Homo sapiens: one gene and its partner. The protein of the gene in region 2 interacts with the protein of the main gene of each other region in a pairwise test. Each region holds a gene or a part of one and is shown on either strand. Other genes may lie near its edges.

Evidence for each region. The genes of interacting proteins can lie anywhere in the genome.
Region 1: the proteins of ZNF326 (region 2) and BRINP1 interact in binary tests that used the Homo sapiens proteins (3 or more experiments, as listed by UniProt).

Annotation. Positions count from the first base shown.
Region 1 is NC_000009.12:119,365,903-119,373,734, forward strand, and holds the start of BRINP1 (BMP/retinoic acid-inducible neural-specific protein 1 precursor), read right to left. Parts: upstream 3,534-7,832; 5' UTR 3,154-3,533; intron 1-3,153. UniProt on the Homo sapiens protein: Plays a role in neurogenesis and brain development. May suppress cell cycle progression in postmitotic neurons by inhibiting G1/S transition.
Region 2 is NC_000001.11:89,990,840-89,998,494, reverse strand, and holds the start of ZNF326 (DBIRD complex subunit ZNF326), read right to left. Parts: upstream 3,386-7,655; 5' UTR 3,238-3,385; coding exon 3,222-3,237; intron 386-3,221; coding exon 341-385; intron 1-340. UniProt on the Homo sapiens protein: Core component of the DBIRD complex, a multiprotein complex that acts at the interface between core mRNP particles and RNA polymerase II (RNAPII) and integrates transcript elongation with the regulation of alternative splicing: the DBIRD complex affects local transcript elongation rates and alternative splicing of a large set of exons embedded in (A + T)-rich DNA regions.

The DNA.
Region 1 (7,832 bases), on a different chromosome or scaffold from region 2:
ATTGCAGATGGGCCTAAAACCCCCATGTTTTTCAGTATCTGCCTGCACCCCGAAACAGGCATCTAGAAGTCTAAGAGCACGCTTTTGAGTGAACTCGATTCTGACTTCTCCAGGGTCTCTCTTTCACAGGGCTTTACATTTCTCCTTCCCTGGAGTTTATGGGTCCTACTCTTCACATGGGAGATGCTTTATATGGGAGAACACAATTTGGTGTGGAGGTTCTCTTTTTTGGAAATGTAGCAAGCAGGAAAGGTTTCTGGATCTTTGTGTGCACATGTGTGTATAAGCACACCTATGCATGTGTGCTTGCATATGCTTCTGTGCCTGTAATATGTATTAATGTCTAGGGGTGAGATTCTAATTAATATAAAGAAATTAATTTGCCTGAAGTATTTGCACTGGTAGATGGGTGTACATTTTGCTCTCTGGAAACCAGTGCATTCCTTAATAAAAATCTTAGATACAGACCAGACACTTTGCTGGGTTCTGCCTACCAGTCACACTCAGTACTGGGTCCTTGCTTGTCGGTAATTCCCTAAAGACATTGGAGAAGGAATCTATGTTCTCTCTCTGTCTCTCTCTCAGTCCTCCCCCCACCACCGTGTGTGTGTGTGTGTGTGTGTGTGTGTGTGTGTGTGTGTGTGTGTGTGTGTGTGTGTCTTTCGGGAATAGTGATTGAGGCATTGGATCTTTTCTCTTCAGGGCCATGTTTCCAGATAGAAAAACCCTGAAATGCATCTCTGAAAATGTGAAGTTTGATGAGGGAAGACAAGCGATTGTCTTGGTAGGGGTCATGGTGGCAGGTTGGCAAGATAGGGGTGGGAGCAATATACAGTCCTAGAGTGTATATTGCTGGGAGGAGTGGAAAGGGTATTGATCTAGCTGATTGATAAGCCTAGATTCTAGTCCTGGGCATGCCACTAACCCACTACTGAATGTTGGGGAATTCTCATTCCCTCTTTAGGCCACAGAGTCCTGCCTTTCTGCTCTTTAATATTCCTTCCAGTTTCGATCGTCTGTGAATTAGGAAAGAGAGAAAATGAGGCAGTTCCCAAAAATGGGTCTCCTCCTTGGCCCTAGTACCCCCTACCCAAGATAATCCAGGGAGCTCTGCCCTGACATGAGTTTCCTGAAGGAGATTCTCTGTGGCTATGTGAAGGCTTCAGCCTGAGGTATCAGCCTCTGGACAGAGAATGGTATGTCTGCAAGTGCCTGCAGGTAGAACCCACCCACTAGGGCAGGTTCCTACAAATACATGTTTGCTTTTATCTCTCCCCAGAATATGAACACATGTGTGTGTGTGTGTGTGTGTGTGATTGATATATATATATATATATATATCTTCCTAGAATATATGTGTACATTTTTTAGGCCAAATATATTTCTACTTTTTTCCCCTAAGAGGGCTTTTCAGCGGCCCCTCCGTGCTGAGCTAGACAAGAGGCTGTGTCCCAGCGTCACAGCCCTTGTCTTCTCCTAGCCTCCCTGCCTGAGAGCAGAACGGCTGCCGCTTACCTTGAGAAAGTAACAGCTGCCGAGTCTGGAAGCCATGCTAACAGCAGTAAAACTCAGCATTTTTGCTGAGTAGGGCAAGCCTTTAAGAGGCAGCTGGGAATCAAATCAATGGCTGGCCCCAGAGCCCAAGCCCAACAGTACCAAGCCAGGGTGGCCAAGGGACCTACCTAAAGAGCCTCCCAGGAGATGGAGGAAAGAAGAAAGAGGGCCTTGACCCAAACTACCTTCCTGGCTGAGATTCCTCCACCGCCCCCCTGCCCTTGGCAGTATTTTGGAGCCAAGTGAGAGACGCGAGGTGCAAACCGACAGCAGTTTAAGTCAATTACTGCCACATTCTGTCATGGGTTCCACACTCACAGCCCCTTTTCAAATTGTAGATCTCCCTCAGTACTGAAACACTCTCTCTCTCTGTCTCCCTCTCTCTCGCTCTTGCTCTCTCTCTCTCCCTCTCCACCTCTCTGCCTTCTCTCAATATCCCCCTAACTCCAGGGGAGCCATGGAGAGGCATATTTAGGGAGAGACTCTCTGGGGGCTTCCCCGCCTGAAATGGGGAAAGAAAGACGAATCTGTCTTAGGAAAGTGCCCCATCCATCTCCTTCCATATCATCCACAGCCGCCCCAGATGAAATTTCCTCTGAGACCCTTTGCAACTGTGATGGATGAGCAAGTCCCCGAGGACGCTTTCTCCTTTCCCCTGAGGGGGATCCATGCAAACTTGCCAGATCCTCCCCAAAACCAACAGAAGCCGGAGGGGCTCTGTTGATTGCAAACGGGGATGCAGGGTAAATCCCTATCCCAGACTTTCCAAGCCCCAGATAAGGAGCCCACCGCTGACTTCCCCCTTTCTCTGTCACCCACTATCCAGTGTCTCCAAATTCCCATCAGAATCTTGGAGTCTGCCCAGTGTAGAATTTAAAGTGACAGCGTCTCATTTGCCTCGGGGGTTGGCCATGTCTCTTTCATATTAAGCTGTGGGTCCCAGTGTAGCAGGATTCCACCGTTTGGAGGAATTTTCCTTCAAGCGTACCAACATTGGGCTAAATAAGGTGCCATCTACAGCCCCATAATCCTCCCCAAACCCCAAGCCCAGAGCCCCAAGAGGAAGTCCACAGCGGGTTTCCCGGTGACTACGTGATCCTATAGTAAGGGTCCCATTCCGTGTAAGCTGGAGAGACCTAATTAAAAAGACACACGAGGGCACACATACAAACACATACGTACAAACATGCACACACACATCGCGCCGTAAGTAGGTTATAGGACCTCTCTCTCTTCACCCCTCCCTTACACACACGGACACACACACACACCACGAACACACGCATCAAACGCAAACGACGCCGCACACGCAAACACACTAGCACCACATCAAGTTCCCACCATGGTGCACACGTCGGGAGCGCGCGGGGACACACACGCCACTCACTCAAACCCGCAATTAGCCCTTTGAGCCCCAGGCACAGGAACCCCCTCCCTAGAACTGGAGAAGACTTGGAGGCGGCGGGGCGGCCAGGTGAAGAGCGGACAAGGGTGCCGGTAGGGGGAGGGGCAGAGGAGCGCGGGGACGCCCCGAATGCGGCCCGGGGCCGGGTCCAAGGGCAGCGGGGCTGCGGGGCGCTGCACCCGGCGCCGCCTTACCTGGAGTCAATGTCCGTCTTTGGCGGAGAGCTGCGGGAGGACGCTTTTTATTCGGCTCGGTGGGAACTTGGGAGAGCCCTGCGTGCAGCTCGCATTCCGGGCACGGCGCGGGGACTGCAGGCGTGGGGGTACCTGGCTCCTAGCAGCCTGGCTCATACTCAGCCGTAAAGTCCCCTTCGCTGGTCCCGAGGACAGGCATGAATCCCGGCTCCGGAAGGCGGTCACTACTCCCTCTGCCTCCCGGCTCTCTCGCTCTCGCTCTCGCTGTTGCTCGCTCGCTCTCTCCCTCTCTCGCGGGTTCGCTCGCCTGCGCTCTCCTCCTCCCCGCGCGCCAGATCAGTTTGCAGCCGTGGGGTCCGGGAGCGAGGCGGCTGGCGAATGGAGAGGGAAGTCCAAGTGCGCCGCGGTCTCCGGGCGGGGAGCGGCGGAGGCCGGGCTACGCCGGGGGAGGGACTTAGCCGGCGACGGCCGAAAATGAATGGGGGAGCGGCGGCCGGGGGGCGGGGAGGGAGGAGCTGAACGCCGGGGTTGCTTCCGAGGAGTGTTTTGTACATCTTTAGGCGGAGGAGGAGGAGAAGCGAGAGGAGGAGAGACGGGAGGCCGCCTCGAGGGAAGGGCGGCCCGGGTGGGCTGGGGCTGAGCCGTAGGGAGTTTCGTGGGTCTGGGGCGTGTAGGGTGTTGTGTCTATGCGCACGAGCATCCAAAGGGACCGCGCATACGCGCAAACCCGGAATCCTGGTGCCCTTAAGCGTGACTGTACTGTGTGTGTCGCGAGTACCTGAGTGTTTCTGGGGCGGCAGGTGTTTCCACGGCCGCGTGGATCCATCGAGTGTGGGTTTTGTCTCGGGAGTTGCCCGTGTGGGTCCGTTTGTGTCTGCGCGTCTCTCTGTGAGTGTTTGACACTGTTTGTTTCTCTCGGTGTGTAGGCGAGAGCCCACGTAACCTCCCAGAATGAAGCAAGAGCTTCTCTACGTAGGCAGGATGTAGGAGGGAGAAGCTGAGGGGACACGAAGTTCTCTGGAGACCACCAGAGGCGGGGAAGGGGCGAGGGTACAGGGACTAAGACATGAAAATAAAAAGCAAAATACTCTGCAATCAGCCTGAATGCAGGCTGGGGCTGCTAACATAGGGCCTCTTCCTGAAGCAGAAAATAAAGCCCTCGTATGATAATTCCCACACAGCGCACATTTGGTATGTTTGTTTACTTTGCTTCCCTTCTGATTTAAACCAAATCAGCAATGCAGATCCCTAGTCCCCTGAAGATTAGGCAAGAATAGAAAGCATTAAGGCTACCAGATGGAGGGGCAGGAAGTCATAGGAAAAGGTGTTGGAATATGTAAAAGAGCCAGATTCAGTAGAAGTGCAGGCTCCAGAGAGGTTGGAGTCCTGTAGCTGTCTGGTCTTGGTGAAATCACTTACCCCTTAAGCCTCAATTCCTTGTCTGTTTAATAGAATAATAATATATCTACCCATCTAATAGGGTTGATGTGGAATTGTAATGAGTTAATATATGCAAAGGCACTTAGACTGCTCATGAGTTAATGTATGCAAAGGCACTTAGACTGCTCCCTGACACCTAGTGAGTGCTCAGTGCATGTTGTCTGCTTTTATGATTGCCATTGTATGTTTTTTGTTTGTTTTTTAATTCAAAGGATGATAAGAGAGAGATGTGACCACCAGGGAGGCCTAGAACAATCTAGGAGCCAGTGAACTAATTGGAGGAAGAGGAGTCTTGAAACAAAATGGAAGAGAAATGTTTGAGTGATGAACTGGGAACTCGGGAAAAATTATTTAATCGACAAAGAGAAAGGGAGAAAGAGAGGAGAAGACATCGAGCTAGCCAGAATGATCCTGGGTCTCAGAAGGTCAGGACTGAGGGGAGAGGAAAGGGAGAGGAGGAGCAGCCAGTGCAGAGCTTCTCAGCCTTCACTGGAATCCCAATGAGGAGGAGTCAGCACCACGGACAGCTCTCCAGCCACAAACCCAGTCAGCGATTTCTATTTTCGCCTGGTGGAAATTTCTCCCTTTTTTCTTGGGCAACTTTCTCTTTCCCTTGGCTTCTGGTCCAGGTTCAGGTCTTGAACACAGGTTCCCCAGGTCAGTTCTGACTTTGATTCTGACCACGAAGAAATACGCCCACCACACACACTCCTTCTCCCACCCACCGCGGTATGAAACCCCAGGTCACTATCTCTTGCCTCTCCTCCTTTCTTTCTTTTCTCTCTCTCTCTTTCTGTCTGTGCCCCATTCCTTCCTTTATTCGTCCCTATCTTTCTCTTTGTTTCCCCATCATCCCCCAGCTGAGATCTACTTCCATGACTGTTAGTAGGCAACAGCTGCCCTGCTGATAATGCAGTTCTGAAATCAATCTGAGACAACGTAGTCAGGCAACTTCAGGTGAAGACCAAAGTTCTGACTGATTCTTCTTAACCCTTTCCTTGTAATCAATCTCCCAAGATGGGTTGTGGTCTACATACCTTAGAAAGTGGGGACTTAATGCTTTGGAATACTGTCCAGTCTTTCTCTTCCTCACCCCACCCAGTCAATATTTCCCTAAAGAAAAAAAGAGCTCTTCTAGTTCCAACCAATACTACACAGAGAGAAAGAGGAGAGAGAATTTTGAACTTTTACCGTGCACCAAGCATTTTATTTGCAATGTTCTGAATATTATTGCTTACAGTTCTGAAAATACTTTGCAGTATGAATAGATAATACTATCCCATCTTTATGGCATAGGAAATTGAGTCTTGAAAAACTTGAGTATATGCCAAACTAGCTATATGCCAAAATATAGCTAGTAGGTGATGGAGTCAGGAATTCAACACCCAAGTCCAAGTCCAAAATCTTTATCCTCTGGGAATAATGGGGAAGCCCTGGGGTGATTGGAAGTTCTTGGAATTTTATGGGGTCACTGCACCCAACCCTAAATATCAACTTAGATGTCTGGATCCATTGCATTATCTGTGTCCCATCCCAATGGATGATTTAGTGTATCTTGTCCCTGGAGAAGGAGGTGAAGACTTTGCATGGACAGATTTAAGGCTCACTCGAGCCTTATGGTTTCTGAGTTTTGAATAAAATGCCAACCTTTCCAGGTCTTAGTTCATTTGCATTTGGCTCAGTTTAGCTTTCCTGTTTCTATGAAGAAAGGCTAAGAGGGCCATTTTAAAATGTCTCCGAAGACACCTTGGTCATCAGAAAAGTTCTCAGTGCAAAGCATTTCTAATGACTTATGGAGAATGCAATCAAAACCATATGGATAACATTTTTGCAGAAATACACACGGGTGGGAAAAGGTTTAGAGGCCAAAAATATATTTCTTTTTTTCTTCTTTGCCAAAGAAAGAACATTTAAGGCAGCTTGAGATATGTGAGAAATGTCTTGTTCTTTCTTTGGGGTGGGTGTTGGTGAGCAGCTGTTTGCTATTTCCACCGAATTTACTAAGGGCTTCCATGGGGAGGAGCTGCCAACAGATTAGGATAGACTTAAGAAAGAACTTCCTGTCTGTAGATTTTGGGGTGACACTAAAATAGGACCTTTTGTACAATGGCATTTAATAAGAAAATGGAATGTTTCACAGCATTTCATTCATAGTATGATAGATTTGAAAATCAATGGATAATATTTTTAATATCACAGACTGTTTTAAGAACCTCACTATTGCTATAGACCCTCTCTGTTGTGGAAAATGTACTATAAAAAATCTCACACAATTTTACATGGAGTTTCACTAAATTTGTCTTTGCCAATCTCATTTGTGAATATCTATCCCTGGACCCCAGCTTTAGGACTCTAGAATAGGTGGCTTTTCTGGCCTGTAATCTGACCTTAGATTTTATAGGTTGCTTTACTTAGACTTAAGCTTAAGAAATTGCAAAGGGAAATCCAGTGAATAAATTAATAAACAGGTAAGCATCATTTTTTTCTAGAAATAGACAAGAAATATAGATAAATGTTCAGTGATGAAATGGAGGTTTCACTTACCCCTCCTTAAATAAAGATAAGATTTTGTCCTGTTTGTGCAGGACTCTCAGCCACCTGCCACTGTCTCAAAAGCTTAAGTTCACTACTCCTGTCAAATCTCAAAGGAGTTAAAATCCCTTAATCTGGGGTGCTTTGGGTTCAGAATAGGCTGAACAACTGCTGAAAGAAGCCTGTATTTCTTAAGCGCCTACTGACTGTGAGGTAGTATGAAAGATTCCGAGATAAATATCTTGCCTGGTCTCTGTCTTCTAGGAGTCTGAAATCCATTGCAGAGCCATACTCATGCCTAAATAATCAGAATACACCATAGAATGTAGCAGGCATGCTCAGGGTCTATAGGAAATATTGAAAAGCTAAAAGGAGGAAAATTTTGCCTCAATGTTAGGTATAACATTTTACACCTATAAACAGCTATTTTTCTTTAGTTTTAAAAACAGTTGAATTCATAATAACTGATATTTATTGAGTGATTAATATGTGTGAGCAACATTTAAGCCTTCCATGTCTCTCAACTAGGCTATTATGAGCCTCTTTTCATTGAATAAAAAACGCTGGCCTAGCGCAGTGGCTTATGCCTGTAATCCCAGCACTTTGGGAGGACAAAGCAGGTGGATCACGTGAGCTCAGGAATTCGAGACCAGCCTGTGCACCATGAAGAAACACTTTCTACAACAACAACGACCAAAAAAAAAAAA
Region 2 (7,655 bases):
GTCTACATTACTCAATACCAAAGCCTCTAATTCAACCAAAATAACTCAGCCAGTGTCTTGTGATTCATCACTCAGAATGTAGTTAGGCCCTTTGGAACACATTAAAATAATCATAATTCAAACAAAATGGACCAAAAAAAAAATCAAACTAATGTGAATAACCCCTAACATTTTCTGATAGCACATTCCCCAATTCAAATACTATATATAGTAAGACAATATTAACACATAAATGATATATCAAGAACCAAAACAAGGACTGAAATAGGTAGAACTGGCCTTTTACATTGATACTATATTTTTATGCGCATGAAGAGAAAAGCTGAAAGAGGATACTTACCATTAAAGCCCTGATAAGTATTCCTGCAGGCGGAGTGTGTGTAATCTATGAAGACACATTTAACAAAAAGGAATTAGTGTGATATTAGCAATAATTCAAAATTATATGCCGATCCAGTAAAAAACAAGCACAATTTTTAAAATGACATTAACCCAATTATCTGCAAAACTGAGAATAGTTAAAACAAATAATTACCAATACTCCATTCCAGAAAATGTATCTCTTTTTTCTTCACTATCTCCCCAAATGGTAGGTTTATTATCCAAATTATGGTAAACATTAGTTTACAACACCTGATACATAATAACAGCCAAAAGAGGGGATTCAGCACTGATTTGTACCAAGTAACACAAAGGCAGATAGATTAAATTATGTATCAAATAATGCAAAAGCAAAGACATCTGAGAATTGTACGTAACATGAAATTTTTGCTAAGTTAATTTCTTTTACCATTTAATTTGCTCTTTAAAGATTTCAAGATCTTGGCCGGGCACGGTGGCTCACGCCTGTAATCCCAGCACTTGGGAAGGTGAGGTGGGCGGGTCACGAGGTCAGGAGTTCGAGACCAGCCCGTCCAATATGGTGAAACCCTTTCTCTACTGGAAATATAAAAATTAGCCGGGCCTGGTGGTGCGTGCCTGTAGTCCCAGCTACTAGGGAGGCTGAGGCAGAAGAATCACTTGAATCCAGGAGGCAGAGGCTGCAGTGAGCCAAGACTGCACCACTGCACTCCAGCCTGGGCGACAGAACGAGACTCTGTCTCAAAAAAAAAAAGATTTCAAGATCTTATCTGAGACATGCATATGCATATACATATATGACTGTGTTCTATATTCAAGCAGAATGTGTCATCACTGAAAACCATATTGCCAATTTCCTCATCAAAACTAATTTAACAACTGTTAAATTCTTTAGTTAATTTTACAAATATATACTGAAAGAACAGAATTTAATATAGTGGTCATCTGGATACAACAGAATCCTGCTACACTATACAGGAATAGATTCATATATGGTGTTAGTCAAACTCCATCTTCCAAATACAGCAGTGGTATATTTGGGCAGTGAGACAGGGCGTATTTCATCACTAATATTGTTTAGAATTTCTATCACTGACACTGTTTAGAATTCTGGCATATGGCAATAACAGAAAGCAGACATACTACATTTTATTATTGTTTTTCAATTCTCCATAGAAATGGATTCCCTTATTGCCTTGGGTGGGGAGTGGAAAGAACTGTTTCTACTGCCCCACCTCCACTTTGTTAGCCTCTGCTATACCTTGGGTGTTGGCATTATCATCAAACTACAGCATGAAAATACAATAATATATTTTTTATTTTCACTCCCAACTCTGGCCACTTCAAATATTCATAGTTTTTTGTTTTGTTGTTGGTTTTTTGTTTTTTTTTTTTCAGACGAAGTTTGGCTCTTGTTGCCCAGGCTAGAGTGCAATGGCACGATCTCGGCTCACTGCAACCTTCGCCTCCCGGGTTCAAGGGATTCTTCTGCCTCCGCCTCCCAAAGTGCTGAGATTACAGGTGTGAGCCATCGTGCCCAGCCCAAATATTCATAGTTTAAAGGTATCTACATCAAAATGAGTTAAAGTCCAACCAAAACAAACAAAACCACGAGAGTGTGCTACTCTTAAGAGCTGAACTTACTATTTCAAAGTAACTGAAAAGTATCTACAAGAGGGCTATTCCAGTCCCCTTTCACAAATCTGTACCTAGATATGAAAGCTTTAATTCTTTGTTGCATGAAATGTTATGAAAAATCAAAAGCTCATCGAGTAAGACATATGCTGAGATCACACCTCATTTAAAGATCATTTTTTTGGTGGGGTTAAAAGTTTACAGCCTACTTAGTGAACTGGTTTTACTTAAGCATGCCTGGTTACTCAGGATTAAATCCAGTTTAATCACATAAGTCCTTTCCCATGTCTCCCTAATGTTGTCACTACATACCACTTTATCTTGACACCAATTCCAAGCAAGGTTTGAAAACAAAAGTGAAGACCAAATTAATATTACTTTGTGACCCTGTAAAAGTGGTTTAAAGAATTAGTATCTGAGACAACTGAAAAGTATTGCTAAAATACAGTTTATTTAATCCGTAAGTCAAACACTTACAAGGCTGTGTACAGGTCTAAATGTGAAGGACATTTGATGCTTGCTGTGCCAAAATTCTGATTAACTTAAATCCTACCTACACACGATCCAAAGAAAAGTGCTTTGGTTCACATAAATATTTCAAGTTAGGGATTAATAAGCAGGTAATTTTTGGTGATAAACACCCCAGTTTACTAACCAGGAAACATCTTGCTTTCCATTTTGCATAGATATTTATCTATACATATCACTTACAGACACCCTTTCAACTCATCTTAAACCGGGACAAACAGAAACATCACTGTGAACAAGCCTCTGAAAATTCTATCTGGCAAGAAGTAACCCGAGGCTGAGGATTAACTAAACGGACGGTCTGGGTCGCTGCCCTGTGGGGCGAATGCGAGACTAGGTGGGTGAGGCCGCACTCGCCCGTTTGCCCGAGACCGGGAAGTTGGAGACGTCGGGGCAATTTCCACTACCAGGGGCCAAGGCGAGTCTGGGGCTCCAGCCCGGAGGCTCTCGCGCTCTAGGCGCGTCCTACCGGACACCGAGTTCTCTTGTCTCCGCCGGCAGCGGGCGCCGAGCGGGCCGAATCGGGGCGCGTGGGTCCCCAAAGAGGCCGACTCCGGGCGCTGGGCCCGGGGCGGGCGGGCGGCCTCCGGGCCCGCAGAACAAAGCCCACACGGCCATCTTGAGACGGTAAACAGACCCCCTGCGTAGGCCACCCCGCCTCCTGCCAGCTGCGCCGACCAGCCAGAGGCAGCGCTTACCGTCCTCGAAGTCCATGGCAGAGGCTGAGGGCCGTCGGCCTTGGCGGCGCTAGGCTGAGCTATGGCCGGCGGCGAGCGTCCGCGACCCGCGATTCCACACGATCACTCCGCGCGACCGAGAGCGGCGCGCTACCAGCCCGGGAGCCGCAGGCCACAGCGAGGCTGGGGAGGCGGGGCCGACCGGCGCTACCAGCCCCATCGGCGCGGCCTGCTATTGGCTGACGCGGGCTGGTGGGCGGGCCCTCGCGTGGGGGGCGGGAAGCAGGTCCGCTGTCACGCTCGGAGGTGCTGACCCTCTGGAGCCGCTGACGGGGAAGGAAGGTAAAAAAGGAGCGCTAAAGATTGGCGGGGGTTGTGGGAAAGCAAGCCGAGTGTACGGGAAGGGCCGGCTGCGGCCCGCCATGTTTGAACCTGGCAAGAGCGAAAGAAGCCGGTTGGAATGCCTTCTTCCTGCCCAAACTAATAAAACCGCATGCCTACCTTTTGCTTAGTATTGGCTAGGGATGACTAATCATAACATTTGTAAGTACTTACGGGGTTTCCTCCATGGAGACACAGAAGTCTGGGACGTTTCTAGAAGCCTGTGGCAAATTTGAAAAGCAAGATACAAAATAGCGTATGGAGTCTGATTATCGCTATGTCAATAAATTTTCTTAAAGGACAAAGCACTGAAATAAAATGGAAATAATAATTCTTTTAAAAAATTTTTAAATTATTTTTATAGAGATGGGGGTTTTGCCATGTTGCCCAAGCAGGTCTCCAACTCCTGGACTCAAGCGATCCCCCCACCCCCAGCCCCGTCTCCGCCTCCCAAAGTGTTAGGATCACAGGCGTGAGCCAATGCGACCCGCCTGGAAAGAATTCTAAAACATGGCCTGCTTGGCCACCGCCCAGGATCTGCAAGCTGCGCGCCCACAAGTTTCGGCACCCATTTGGACTTTCACAATCGGAGATGGCAGTGGTGAAGGCATCAACATCAAAAGCTACCAGGCCTTGGTATTCTCATCCAGTATATGCAAGATACTGGCAACATTATCATCAAGCAATGGCTTGGATGCAAAGCCACCACAATGCCTACAGGAAGGCGGTGGAATCCTGTTTCAGTCTTCCATGGTTCTTCCTTCCTGCGCTTCTTCCCCAAAGCTCTTACGATAACCAGGCTGCGTATCCTCAGTCCTTCTATGACCATCATGTGGCCTAGCAGGACTCCCCCTGCAGTTCTTCACATTTCAGAGGGTCTGGGCAACATCCACATGGCAGCAGTAGGATCCAGGCATCCACAAGAGAAGACCAAGCCTTATCCAAGGAGGAAGAGATGGAGACCGAGTCAGATGCAGAGGTAGCATGTGACCTGAGCAATATGGAAATCACCGAAGAGCTCCGCCAGTACTTTGCAGAGACAGAGAGGCACAGAGAAGAACTACTGCGGCGGCAACAGCTGGATGCGGAGCGCCTGAACAGCTACGTGAACGCTGAACACGACCTGTACTGCAACACCCGCCGGTCGGTAGAGGCCCCAGCTGAGAGGCCTGGTGAGCGGCGCCAGGCCGAAATGAAGCGTTTGTACTGGGACAGCGCCGCCAAGATCCAGGCCATGGAGGCTAACGTGCAGCTGAGCTTTGACAAGCACTGTGATCCAAAGCAGCCTAATTACTGGCCGGTCATCCCCCCGAAGTTCTGAGCTCGGGGCACAGGGCACCCAGCCTCTTCCTCTTCCTTTTGGATACGCGCTCTTCATCTCTCCTTCTGTACATTTCTCAGGGAAAGGGGACTTTGTACTGAGGTACAGGCACGTTCACCACAGTCCCAGTGGGCCTGTCACGGGGTGGATGTACTGTGCCAGCCACTTGGAGGTCGGCAGGACATATTCTGTTGCCAACATGATAAATTTTATCCTGACATAAAATGATAATTTTGTATATATTATACTGGTTTTTTATGTTGTCAGTAACAGTTCAATTCATTAAAGTTCTTGCCTAGAAAAAAAAAAAAGAATTCTAAAACATGAACGATGATTCTTTTTGTGATGACTTTTTATATACACATGATTATGTGTTCTTCTATATCTCCAAATTCTTGAGCACTTTCATAATGTAAAATATATATTTGGCCTAAAACAAGATTTATTATTTATTAATGATTAGTGTTTGTTAAAAGTTCTCTTTAGCCAAATATTATGTTTCATTTTCTTTGAAGATATACTTAGTGATGCGGAGGTGGGGGGCTCTCTTGGCCATTTAAGTCAGTGGTTCTTGATTGTGACTCTACTCTGGAATCCTCCAGGGCACTTTTAGTAAGTGCCAATACTCAGGTTTCACTTCAGGGGTTCTGATTTGATAATGAACCAAAACTGTCACCAATGTTTATTTTCAAGACATTTAAAAGAGATGTTATTGGACTAATTTCTCTTCTGTTTCAGTAACCTGTACTCCTTGAGAAAATGTCAAGTCTAGAAAAAATAACTTTAGAGACAGGCTATGATCCAGTTCTGAATTTTAAGGTGCAAATAAAAGAGCTGTAACAGTTCACAGATGGGTAAGATTTGTGGCAGAAGAGTCATCCAGAGCTTGAAGGATGACCTATAGAAACACACACACACATACTGGATTGTATTATTGCCACTTTGGAAACAGTGTTTGAGACATGGACAAAGTTATTCAAACATTCAGGAATCTGGAAAAAGACAAACTGACATTGGAGCAGTTTGAACCACAGATTAAAAAACTTTTTTTTTTTCATAGAGCAAACGGTGGCAACAATGAGTTGATCACCAGATAGGAAACCATGAATCAAATTATTTACCTTTTTTCAGGGTCCACCCAGTTGCTGGAACCAAGTTTCAAGGAGGCAACCTCTGGAAATACAACTACAAGAAAAGCTCACAGATACACTATGTGTATTACTGTTGCCCCGGAAATGGGCAGAGCATTTTTTCCTCCTCCATCCTGATTGATTCACCCTGTTCTCCACCCTTTTCTTGTTTCCTCCTTTTTTCCCTTCTATGCAGATACTTCTCCACTTACTTGAGGTTACATCCCAATAAGCCCTTCATAAACTGAAAATATCACAAGTCAAAAATGCATTTAATATGCCTAACCTATTGAACATCATAACTTCACCTAACCTACCTTAAATGTGCTTAGAACATTTACATTAGCCTACAGTTGGGCAAAGTCATCTGGCAGCACAGTACATTGTAGAATATCAGTTGTTTACCCTTGTGATTACATCGCTGACTGGGAGACGCTGCCCAGCCTTGGAAAAGAGTATCCTACTTCATGTCACTAGCCTGCAAAAAGATCAAAATTCAAAATTGGATTATAGTTTCTACTAAATGCACGTCACTTTCACACAGCTATAAAGTCAAACCATAGTAAGTCAGAGACCATCTATACATGTTTTATATTCACCTAAGCTGAACATTTTGAAAACTGAACTCATAATTTCAAACCTGTTCGTCCTCCTGTATCCTTTCATCTCTGTTAGTGGCATCATGAACAGCCACACACTAATCCCAGCTTACGAGTCATCTAGTCAAAACTCAGCCCTCCCTCATCCTCCCACCTCCAATCCATTCTGAAGTCTTTCATCTGTTTATTAGTGCCTAAAATATCTTAAACCTGCCCCCTCCTCTTCATCCCCACTGCCACAACCTAAGTTTAGACTCTCATTATCTCTCTCCAAAACTATTGCCTCAGCTTCCTAATTAATCTCTCTGTCTTTCAGCCTCCTCAGGGTTGCAGTGATCTAAATGCAAATCTCAACATGTCATCATGCGTCTCTGTCAAGGATTAGGTGTAGTCAAATCTCCTTACCCTAGAACACATGCAGCAGGATCTGGCCACTGCCTGAACTGCGTCATCTCTCTGCATTTCCCTTGCCTCCTCTCTCCCACACTCTCTCTTTTGATTACCAATTTTAGGCGACAGGTTCCCAAAACACCCCTGTGCTTTTTCATACCACTGAACTTTTGCTTATGTTGTTTCCTCTGCTTGGAACACCACCTGGTTAACCGTACTCATCTTCAAAACACAGCTCAGGATTTATTTCCTGTAAGAATCAGTCCCAGATCCCAACCCCACCCCCTGGGTCAGTACTTCTCAAATATTTAGCATGCAAATGATTCACCTAGGGACTTGTTAAGACAAAAATCACATTCAGTCAGTCTTGGGTGGAACTGGACAGTCTGTATTTCTAACAAACTTCCAGGAGATGCTGCCGCTGGTGGAGCCACACGTGGAGTAGGAAGGCCTTGGGTTCTGTGACTGCACTATCTCCCATGCATTAAATACCCTGGCTTTATGTCTTCCCACATTAAAAGCTCTTTGGGATTAGAATCAAGACTTCTTTGCATCTTAAGTGCCAAATATATATGTTTACCAAGAAAACTGAGTTCTCACTGAATGTTTTTAGCTTTTTTTTCTTATAATTTTC